Linked DNA regions of Homo sapiens: region 1 is linked to region 2. Evidence: fine-mapped expression QTL. A gene starts in region 2. The other region holds a variant in brackets. All regions are shown on one strand. Distances are between the middles of the regions. Region 1 has its middle 17 kb from the start of ATXN1L. Region 2 holds the start of ZNF821 (zinc finger protein 821).

Region 1 (5,376 bases), 55 kb before region 2:
ATGAAGCTTATAGTCTAGTCAATGAGAATTAAAAGCAAACTTTGGGCCTTCCAGTCCACAGGCTTCTTCCTTCTCTCTCTTTCCATGCCTATGTTTTCAGTACCTATGAGGTTAGACACTAGCACACAAACAGTTAAGAGCTAACTGTAAATACGAATAGATAGGTCTACAAGAAAGTTTATTAAACTTTAGCAGTGGTAAACTCCAGATTTATTCATTCATTTGACAAAATGAACAGACAGGAACAGGGCTGGGGATGCAACTGTGACAAAAGTCCCTGCCCTCATGGAGCTGACATTCTAGTGGGGGAGACGAATAATCAACACGATCACTAAGTGAACTATGCAAGATGTGAGCTAGAGATAAGTGCTACAGAGGAAAAAAAAAATAGCAGAGAAGAGGGAGGAGGTTGACATTTTAGAGAAGATAGCCAGGGAGGGCCTCACAGAGAAGAGAACATTTAAGTATAGACTTCCAGGAAGTAAGGGAGGAACGAGGCAGATATCTAGAGAACACAGAATACCGGAAGGAGATACAAAGGCCCTGACGTTGGAATGTTCTTGGGCATTTGAAGAAGCATAAAGTGGCCAGTGTGGCTAAGGCAGAGTAAACAAGGAGGAAGGTTGGGGGGAATGAAGTCAGAGTGATGGGGAGGGAAGGTATGGGTTGTGGGAAAGACTTTGCCTATTATTCTAAGTGAAATATGGCCAAGTGTGGTGGCTCACGTCTGTAATGCCAGCACTTTGGGAGGTGGAGATGGGTGGATCACTTGAGGTCAGGAGTTCGAGACCAGCCTGGCCAACATGGTGAAACCCCATCTCTACCAAAAATATAAAAAATTAGCTGGGTGTGGTGGCAGTCGCCTGTAATCCCAGCTACTCAGGAGGCTGAGGCAGGAGAATTGCTTGAACCCAGGAGGCAGAGGTTGCAGTGAGCTGAAATTGAGCCACTGCACTCCAGTGTGGGTGACAGAGTGAGACTCTATCTCAAAGAAAAAAAAAAAGAAATGAAAAGGCACTGGAGGCCAGGTGCAGTGGCTCATGTCTGTAACCCCAGCACTTTGGGAGGCCGAGACAGGTGGATCACTTGAGGTCAGGAGTTGAAGACCGCCTGGCCAACATGGTGAAACCCTGTCTTTACTAAAAATAAAAAAATCAGCTGGGCGAGGTGGCGTGTGCCTGTAATTCCTGCTATTTGGGAGGCTGAGGCACGAGAATCACTTGAACCCAGGAGGCAAAGGTTGCAGTGAGCCAAGATTGCACCACTGCACTCCAGCCTGGATGGGTAGGGGTTGAGAGAAAGGGAAGAATCAAGGAAGATATGAGTATTTTTGTCGTAGCATAGAATTACCATTAACGGTAGAATAGGTAGATATTTTGGAAGGGGTGAGAGCACTTTGGGACGTGTTAAGTTGGTGATGTCTATGAAACACTCAAGTGAAGATGTCAAGAAGGCAGGAGGATATATGAACCTGGAGCTCATATAAACTGAGAAGCCTTAGGTAATGCTATACATGTAGAAGCCCCCACCATAAAGAAGGTATTGAAAAACATGTGGTTGGATGAAGTCAGCTCAAGAGTTGGGAAGAGGTCCAAAGACTAAGCCCTTGAGCACATCTCTAGTGGCATTTCATATGTCTTTTACTGCTTTAAAGTCCCTTTCTGTATTGTTTAAATGTATACAATGTGTCATTTTTCAAAAAGCTATATAATTCTTTGGAAGAGAACAAGAGTAAAAGAATCCCTATCAGGAAACCATCATCAGCAAAGATAAATGTGCCCCATTCTCTGGAATCCAACATGATACATCCAGCAATCTGAAAGCAGAGCAGTGGGAACACAGGAGATGGAACAGACTTTTTGCTTCATGCCTGCACTAAGCAGAAGTTTGGCACCCAAGTATGAAGCCATCCTTTATAAAGAAGTCACCAGAGACAGCTTAATCAATCACTAAAACAAGTAGCTCCCTACATGGAATGATGTGAGATGCATTAGGGGAAAATCTCTCTTGTCCTAAGACAGTTCATGACCATCTTCTGGAAGCTTAATTCACCCCCATGATAATGATTACAATGAAAAAAAAGCAAAAGCAAAATTTGATTACATTTGTTATGTTCCAGGCATTGCATTTAAGTTCCTTATGTGTATTAGCTAATTGAGTCATCTCAACAAACTTATGAGTTAGGAAATATTATTATCCCCAACCCAGAAAACTGAGTTGTTGACACTTGGCCTGAGGTCTCACAGTTAATATATGGTGGAGCAAGGATTTGAATATGTATCGTTTCACTCCTGAACCCATACTCTTCTTTCTTTTTT[C/CT]TTTTTTTTTTTTTTAGAAGGAGTTCCGCTCTTGTTGCCCAGGCTGGAGTGCAATGGTGTGATCTCAGCTCACCATAACCTCTGCCTCCTGGGTTCAAGCGATTCTCCTGCCTCAGCCTCCCAAGTAGCCGGAATTACAGGCATGCGCCACCATGCCCAGCTAATTTTTTTTTTTTTGTATTTTTATTAGAGGATGGGGGAGAAAAGAACTAAAAATGTTTCACACACTTCTGGATATAACACTTTTAGGTACCTTCGTTTTTTTGTTTTCTACTCTATTGTTAACCACTTATAAGGGTCTGTTAGGAATAGTATGTGGGCAGAGAAAAAGTACAAATTTTACCTGCTTTACAATTCTTCCAGAGCTACTCTAGAAGCCACATGACTAAGTAGAAAAAAATCTTTCAGTGCACAATAAAAACCTCAGCTTTAAGTCAATTTTCCCATCTTAAAAGTACTTACCATGGGCCGGACATGGTGGCTCACACCTGTAATCCCAGCACTTTGGGAGGCCAAGGAGGGTGGATCACAAGGTCAGGGGATCAAGACCATCCTGGCCAATATGGTGAAACCTCATCTCTACTAAAAATACAAATATTAGCTGGGCATGGTGGTGCACGCCTGTAATCCCAGCTACTCGGGAGGCTGAGGCAGGAGAATCACTTGAACCCGGGAGGTGGAGGTTGCAGTGAGCCAAGATCATGCCATTGCACTCCAGCCTGGGGGACAAGAGCAAAATTCCGTCTCAAAAAAAAAAAAAAAAAAAAAGTGTAAGGATAGAAAAAAAATCATACGGTAAGGTTGCAAAGAGCAAAGATCTATGGGTAGCATGAATCTTTTTTTTTTTTTTCTTTTTTTTTGAGACAGGGTCTCGCTGTCACCCAGGCTGAAGTTCAGTGGCAGGACCTCGGCTTTCTGCAACCTCTGCCTCCCAGGCTTAAGGTATCCTCCCACCTCAGCCTCCTGAGTAGCTGAGACTACAGGCACGTGCCACCACAGCTGGCTAATATTTTAAAAATTAATTTTTGGTAGAGACAGGGTTTAGGTTTCACCATGTTGCCCAGGCTGGTCTCTAACTCCTGGGCTCAAGCGATCCACCTGCCTGGCCTCCCAAAATGCTAGGGTTACAGGTGTCAGCTACCATGCTCAGCCAAGAACAAATCTTCTATTTGTGAAATTGTGAAGAAGGAAAAAGAAATTCATGCTAGTTTGCCTGTCGCAGCTCAAACAAACTGCAAAACTTTTGGTCGTAGAGCGTGATAAATGCTTAGTGAGGATGGAAAAAGCCTTAATTTTGGGGGTGGGAAACATGTACAGAAACTTACTCAGGTTTGGTATTATCTGCAGTTTCAGGCATCCAATGGGGGTTTTGGTAGTGTTCCCCACGGATAAGCAGGGACTACTGTATATTTTTTTTAGATGATGTATAATTTAGCAACAAAAAGGGGCCTTGCTTGTGAATGTATAAGACAGCCCTATTCCAGAGTTAGAGAACTTCAAACCAAGCAGAATATGAGGAAGAAAGTGAACATAAGAAAAGGCCGGGCGTGGTGGCTCACGCCTGTAATCTCGGCACTTTGGGAGGCCGAGGTGGGTGGATCACCTAAGGCTAGGATTTCAAGACCAGTCTGGCCAACATGGCGAGACCCTGTTTCTACTAAAAATACAGCAGTGAGCTGAGATCGCACCACTGCACTCCAGCCTGGGCTACAGAGCAAGACTCTGTCTCAAAAAAAATCCAAACTTTGAATCAACAGTTCTGATTTTGTGATAAGTATTTGAATTATGTCAAGGGTGACAGTAAATATATTCAAGAACCAGTACTACATGGCACTAACCAATCAGAATGGACACCCTGAATGACAAAAAATGTCCACCAGCCTGAAGCAACTGCTGTGGCCAGGTCTCTGTGTTCCATTGAATGTCAGTTTTGAATTATGTAAATGTGGTCATGATGTCAGATGTTCAAAAGTCGAAACTTCTAAATTTCATTAGCTTCCTTTATATTACTAAGCCAGTTACATTTAGTCAAATATGTACTTTCTTTTTTTTCTTTTTTTTTTTTCCTGAGATGGAATCTCGCTCTGTCCTCCAGGCTGGAGTGCAGTGGTATGATCTCAGCTCACTGCAACCTCCACCTTCCAGGTTCAAGCGATTCTCCTGCCTCGGCCTTCTGAGTAGCTAGGATTACAGGCATGCACCACCACGCCTGGCTAATTTTTGTAGTTTTAGTAGAGACGGGGTTTCACCATGTTGGCCAGGATGGTCTCTATCTCTTGACCTCGTGATCCACCTGCCTCAGCCTCCCAAAGTGCTGGGATTACAGGCGTGAGCCACTGCACCCGGCCAATGTGTACTTTCTTAAAAAAGAAATCAGCTCAGTTTTCTTGGCTTTAGCTTTTTTTTTTTTTTTTTTTTTTTTTTTTGAGACAGAGTCTCACTCTGTTGCCCAGGCTGGAGTGCAATGGCACAATCTCGGCTCACTGCAACCTGCACCTCCCGGGTTCAAGCGATTCTCCTGCCTCAGCCTCCTGAGTAGCTGGGATTACAGGCGCCTGCCACCACGTCCAGCTAATTTTTTGTATTTTTATTTTATTTATTTACGTATTTATTTATTTTTGAGCCGGAGTCTCGCTCTGTTGCCCAGGCTGGAGTGCAGTGGCACGATCTCCCCTCACTGCAAGCTCCGCCTCCCAGGTTCATGCCATTCTCCTGCCTCAGCCTCCCGAGTAGCTGAGACTACAGGCACCCGCCACCACGCCTGGCTAATTTTTTTGTATTTTTAGTAGAGATGGGGTTTCACCATGTTCGCCAGGATGGTCTCGATCTCCTCACCTCGTGATCCACCTGCCTCGGCCTCCCAAAGTGCTGGGATTACAGGTGTGAGCCACTGCGCCCGGCCCAATTTTTTGTATTTTTAATAGAGATGGGGTTTCATCATGTTGGCCAGGCTGGTCTTGAACTCCTGACCTCAAGTGATCCTCCCACCTCAGCCTCCTAAAGTGCTGGGATTACAGGCGTGAGCCACCATGCCTGGTGGCATTAGCTTTTTTATAAA
Region 2 (5,376 bases):
CCAACTAACTCCTCTATGTAGCTAGAAGGACCTCAAACCTATAATCAGATCCTGCCTCCCCTTACCAAAAGAATAAAGAAACCGCAAATGGCAAAGACAGGCCTCCACAGGAAGTGGCAAAGGAAGCAGCTTTCAGGCAGTCTTCTAGCATATCTGCATATCAAACACAGTTCTTTTTCAGACCTTTAATTAAAAACAAAACAAAACAAAACTCTAAATGTATACAATAAAAATCAATTTAAACTATTTAGAGGGCAATATACTGAGTGCTGATAGTGTATGTTCTCTAAGTTTTGTGTATGTCATTTTTTTCTAATCAAGTAGTTGTTTTATTCACGGAAGCAGTGAATGAATATCACACTTTGGATTTCCTATATGTGTGTGGAATCACCAAGTGGAAAGGTAATGAAATGCAGGCTCTATTAATATTTTTAAAAATATGGCCAGGCACCGTGGCTCACGCCTGTAATCCCAACACTTTGGGAGGCCAAGGCAGGCAGATCACTTGAGGCCAGGAGTTTGAGACCAGCCTGGCCAATATGGGGAAACCTCTAATAAAAATACAAAAATTAGCTGGGCATGGTGGTGCACACCTGTAAATTCCAGCTACTCGGGAAGCTGAGGCATGAGAATCGCTTGAACCTGGGGAGGGGAGGTTGCAGTGAGCTGGGATGGAGGCACTACACTGCAGCTTGGGCAACAGAGTGAGACTCCATCTCAAAAAAAGATAAAAAACTGCCATGGGCGGTGGCTCTCGCCTGTAATCCCAGCACTTTGGGAGGCTGAGGCGGGTGGATCACCTGAGGTCGGGAGTTTGAGAACAGCCTGGCCAACATGGTGAAACCCCGTCTGTACTAAAAATACAAAAACTAGCTGGGCGTGGTGATGCATGTCTGTAATCTCAGCTACTCAGGAGGTTGAGGCAGGGAATTGCTTGAACCCGGGAGGCGGAGGTTGCAGTGAGCCAAGAACGCACCACTGCACTCCAGCCTGGGCGACAGAACGAGACTCCGTCTCAAAAAAAAAAAAAAAAGATAAATAAAAATTTAAAAAAATAAAATATACTCCTCTAATGTGATAATCTATTGAGGCTAAATATATATATACTCTATTATAGAAGAAAAAACAGAATCTTGACTAATTTTTATATTTTCTCCCTTCAAGATCAGAAACTGAAACTGTAAGATAAAGGTAATAAAGTCCCTTCTGAAGGAAGGCCAAATAATTTGAACCAGACAACATTTCAATATTAAAGCTCCAAGTCAAAAGACAGAGATGAGTGTCTGCGTATTTAAATCAGCAATGCCCGCTGCATCTTATAATCCTCCTAGTGGCCAAATGGGGAACTGACCAGATGGTACCCAATGGGACTTCACACCTGAGTGATCAAGAGAAAAATAAGCAATTACAGTCCCCTCCCACACAACGAAACGAAAATAATAACAAAAACACCCACAAAAACAGGCCTGTGGGGTCATGGGCTGTTGAAAATCAATAAGTAAATAAATAAATGGCGCTGAAAGGACACTCTTGACCACAAAGCAAGATCTCAGAGGCCAGATGACTTGTTTTATAGGCAGTTAAAGCTAATAAAACCCAGAGACATACAGCCCTAAAGGTCACTCATTTTGTTTTACTTTTAACACTGCCTCAATTTCCAAGCCAAAACCTGAAACCAAACCAAACCAAAAATGTAAATAGATAGCTGCCTGAACATGGGCTGGGAAGACAGGTAAACGGTGAGATTCAGGTCTAAAGGGATTCCATTTTAAAAGGAAAGCAGTTCTGTCTGTCTTCAGAGCAAGGTTAAGAGTCCTCGGGAAGGTGCAACGTCTCCCCTGAACACTGTCTCTGCTCTCCCACAGGTATTAGGTTGCAGCGTCTAGGGCACACCACAGACTTTGGCAAGAAAAAAAACGAGTGAAATCTCAGCTTGATGAAAAGAGAGTGCGTTCCCACCTCCAGCTCTGGTGCAGTTCCCACGGAGCAAAGCAAACTCGACTGAATCCAAGTGATCTGTATCTGCCAAAAAGGAGAGGACAAGAAAGCTGGTCACTTAGCCGCCTGGCTGTTCACCTGACCCCTGGGGTTGGGTCTGGGGCGTGTCTAATCAGCCGAGATGGTCCCTCTGCTTCTTCAAGCATGAGCCCAGGTAAATTCCCAGGAATTACCAGACAAGAGCCTGACAAGAGCCGGAGGTCTTCCGAGGCGGCTCAGACAAACCCTTAGACAACACAATCTCCGAAATCTAAATTTAGAAGCTTTTCTGCGAGACCCAGACGCGGGGACTGATACCCCCCGGTCTGCACGCCCACGCCCATCCTCCCCTCCCCCAGCTCCACCCAAGGCTGTCAGACGCCGGGGCCGTCCCCGCCGGGGCCCGAGGAGGCGGGGTGCCCGCGGCCCGCGCAAAAGCCCCCCGGCCCCGCACCCCGCGCCCCGCGCCCGAGAGCGCCAAGGGGCAGCAGGAGGAGCGGCCGGGGAGGAATTGGGGTTGGAAGCGGGGAGGGTGAGCCCGGGCTGCCCCCCTAGGCCGGAGCTGGCCCCCGGCCCTCTCCCCAGTGCAGACAAAAGGACCAACAGCCGGCGGCCGCGAGGGGGCGAGGAGCCCGCATCCCCAGCCCGGACCCGGAGGGAGGGCAGGGGGTCTTTTTACCCGGCGCCTCGGCGCTGCGCTGCGCTCTGGGTCCCTGGGCCCCGCCTCCGGACAGACGGACCGCCGGACAATGGACCCGGGACCGCAGCCCAAGCCAGCCGGGCCGGGGCGCTCCGGGACTGGGCCCCGGCGAGCGGAAGGGGCTCCGGGCCGAGCCGAGCCGGTGGCGGGGAGCCGAGGGGCGGCGCTGCAGACGGACAAAGCCAACAGCAGACAGACAGACGGAGGGGGAAAAAGATGGCGACGCGGGCGGCGGGAGCGCGCGGCTCGCGCACCCGCAGCTAGTGAGGCGCGTGCACGAGCCTCCCTCTCCCCCTCCCCCGCGCCGGCCAGGTCCCCTTCCCCGCGGCCCGGCGCGCGCCTGGCGTTGTGGGCGGGGCCTGAGGAGAGGGGCTCTGGAGAGGAGGGGCTCCGGGGAGCGCCCAATCCCGGGCGCCCGAGAGGGGCTCGCCCGCGTTCCAGGGCTCCGGAACCCCCCGCCTCGCCCATTCCCGGGTCTTTCTCTGGCTGTCTCAGCCGCTCAGCTCCCCCAGACCTTCCTGGACGTGTAAACGCCACCCTACCCAGCCCCGATCCTGGTTTCTTACCCCACCATCGAGTTCAGCCACAAAACCCACAACCCCCAACCACAGCTCCGCCGCAGGCACCCCCTCTCCTTAGCCCGGATCCCCACCACCGTCACAAACCCTCTTCGCCTCATTCCCCCACGCTTCGCGGTGGCTTCGGCTCCCGAGGCTTTGAATGTGACCACGGGCCTTGGTGGGAGGGGCCAAGTTCAGCTGTCAGAACCTCAGAGCTGGGAAATCTTGAGATTTCTTTTGAGTATTTAATTTTCTGACATGATTCTCAACTGATAAAATAACATTGGCTGCAGACCCAGGGGCAGGGGAACTTGTGGCACTGTTGTCACTTGAGGGATGTTTGGGGGCAATGGAGAGCCGTTGGACCTTTTTTTTTTTTTTTTTTTTGAGACAGAGTCTCGCTCTGTCACCCAGGCTGCAATGCAATGGCGCGATCTTCGCTCACTGCAACCTGCGCCTCCCAGGTTCAAGCGATTCTCGTGCTTCAGCCTCCCGAGTAGCTGGGACTACAGGCGTGCACCACCACGCCCAGCTAATTTTTGTATTTTTAGTAGACGGGGTTTCACCATGTTGGCCAGGCTGGTCCCGAACTCCTGACCTCAGGTGATCCTCCCGCCTCGGCCTCTCAAAGTGCTGGGATTACAGGCGTAAGCCACTGTGCCCGGCCTGGTTGGACGCACTTCTAGTCAAACACCTCCTCCTGTCCACGTCCTTCTCTCTCCTAGTTCCTGTTGCCTTCTTTTCTTCCTCTCTTCTAGAATGCCTGAGCCTGCCCTGGCATCGCTTACCTGGAGAAGCAGGGAATGCAGAGGAAAGAAGATGAGATCTGGTATTAGAAGATCTGGCTTTGAGCCCCAGCTCTGCCACCCACCAGCCTGTTGACTTTGGGCAAGTCACTTCCCTGTTCTGAGCCTCTGCTTCCTAAGATGTCAAATGGATAATGATGCAATAATTCCTGGCCTTTACTCTCCGAGGGTTGTTGTGCCAGTTAAGTAAAACAAATGGCTAAAAGCATCATGCAAATGTTTTTCGTGATTACTGGCTGCACAAAGGCAGGGCTAACGAGGATGCTGTCATTTGCTGATAAAGTGACAAGTCCTGGTATTTGCATAGAACATTCTTGCAAATTGTCTTTCCCCTAAATCTTTTATGAGATGATCTCATTGTCTGCATCTTGTGTTCAATGTAATAGAATGATTACATTGAGGGATCTTGGTCCTTCACAATTCTGTGATAAATAGCTCATTCATCATTCACTCATTTATTTATTGTGATTAGGATACTTAGATAGCAATTATTGTTGTTTAACTTCAGTCAAGGAAACATTTTAATTTCATTTAAAAACTTAGTTTCCAAGTAGACAGAAAATGGAATATTATCATCCAACCCGCAAGTGTTTGTACTATTTTGTGTAAGAATACAACCTAGAATACACACTGGCTTTTATATTTAACAGTAATTCTTGATCAGTTTGGACTGAGGGATACAAGTATGGCTTTATTATGTCACTTTAAAGCTGACTTAGTTGACATTTTCAACAGAAAAGTAGCAAACAGGTAAAGTTTGCCTCCAGTGAAATTTCTTGGATGCATTATTATTATGTAATGTTGGGCAGCTTATTCCATCTCCTTGACTTCCAAATAAAATGAGATGATAATAATGCTATTCTTATGACTTCCCTGTGCTCTAAAAATTTCTCAGAGGTGTTGTGATTCAAGGTTACAACCAAATAATGAAAAAATTATTAAATACGTAATTAGTTTAAGTTAGGCATGGTGGCTGGCACCTATAGTCCCAGCTACTCAGGAGGCTGAGATGGTATGATGACTTGAGCCCAAGTGTTTGAGGCCAGCTTGGGCCACATAGTGAAACCCTTGTCTCTTTAAAAAAGAAGAATTAATTTATTTTTCCTCTGCTTTCACCTAAACTTGTTCTACATCTAGAAGACCTTTTAATTAACCATATATATTTTTTTAGCTTCACTTTTTTCTACTTTCCCAATCTACTCACAGTTATGTCATCATTTTGCCACTTCAACTATTTAACTTTCCACTTGAAATATCTTCCTAATCCATTTTATATTTGTTGGCTTCTACAATGACCTTGTTAGGGCTCTATATTCCAACAATAAAGGTAGGA

Evidence for each region.
Region 1: its variant is fine-mapped to the expression of ZNF821 in whole blood (INTERVAL, PIP 0.98).

The regions. Positions count from the first base shown.
Region 1 is chr16:71,826,356-71,831,731 of GRCh38, forward strand. No RefSeq gene overlaps it. Among named protein-coding and RNA genes, the nearest start is that of ATXN1L, 17 kb to the right of the region's middle. The variant C/CT (reference allele first, on the strand shown) is at 2,319.
Region 2 is chr16:71,881,252-71,886,627 of GRCh38, forward strand. ZNF821 (zinc finger protein 821) reads right to left here and starts at 2,931. Exons shown (of 8, transcript NM_001201552.2): 1 at 2,657-2,931; 2 at 1,960-2,022. RefSeq lists enhancers at 1,757-1,956, 3,797-4,297 and silencers at 2,317-2,436, 2,457-3,216.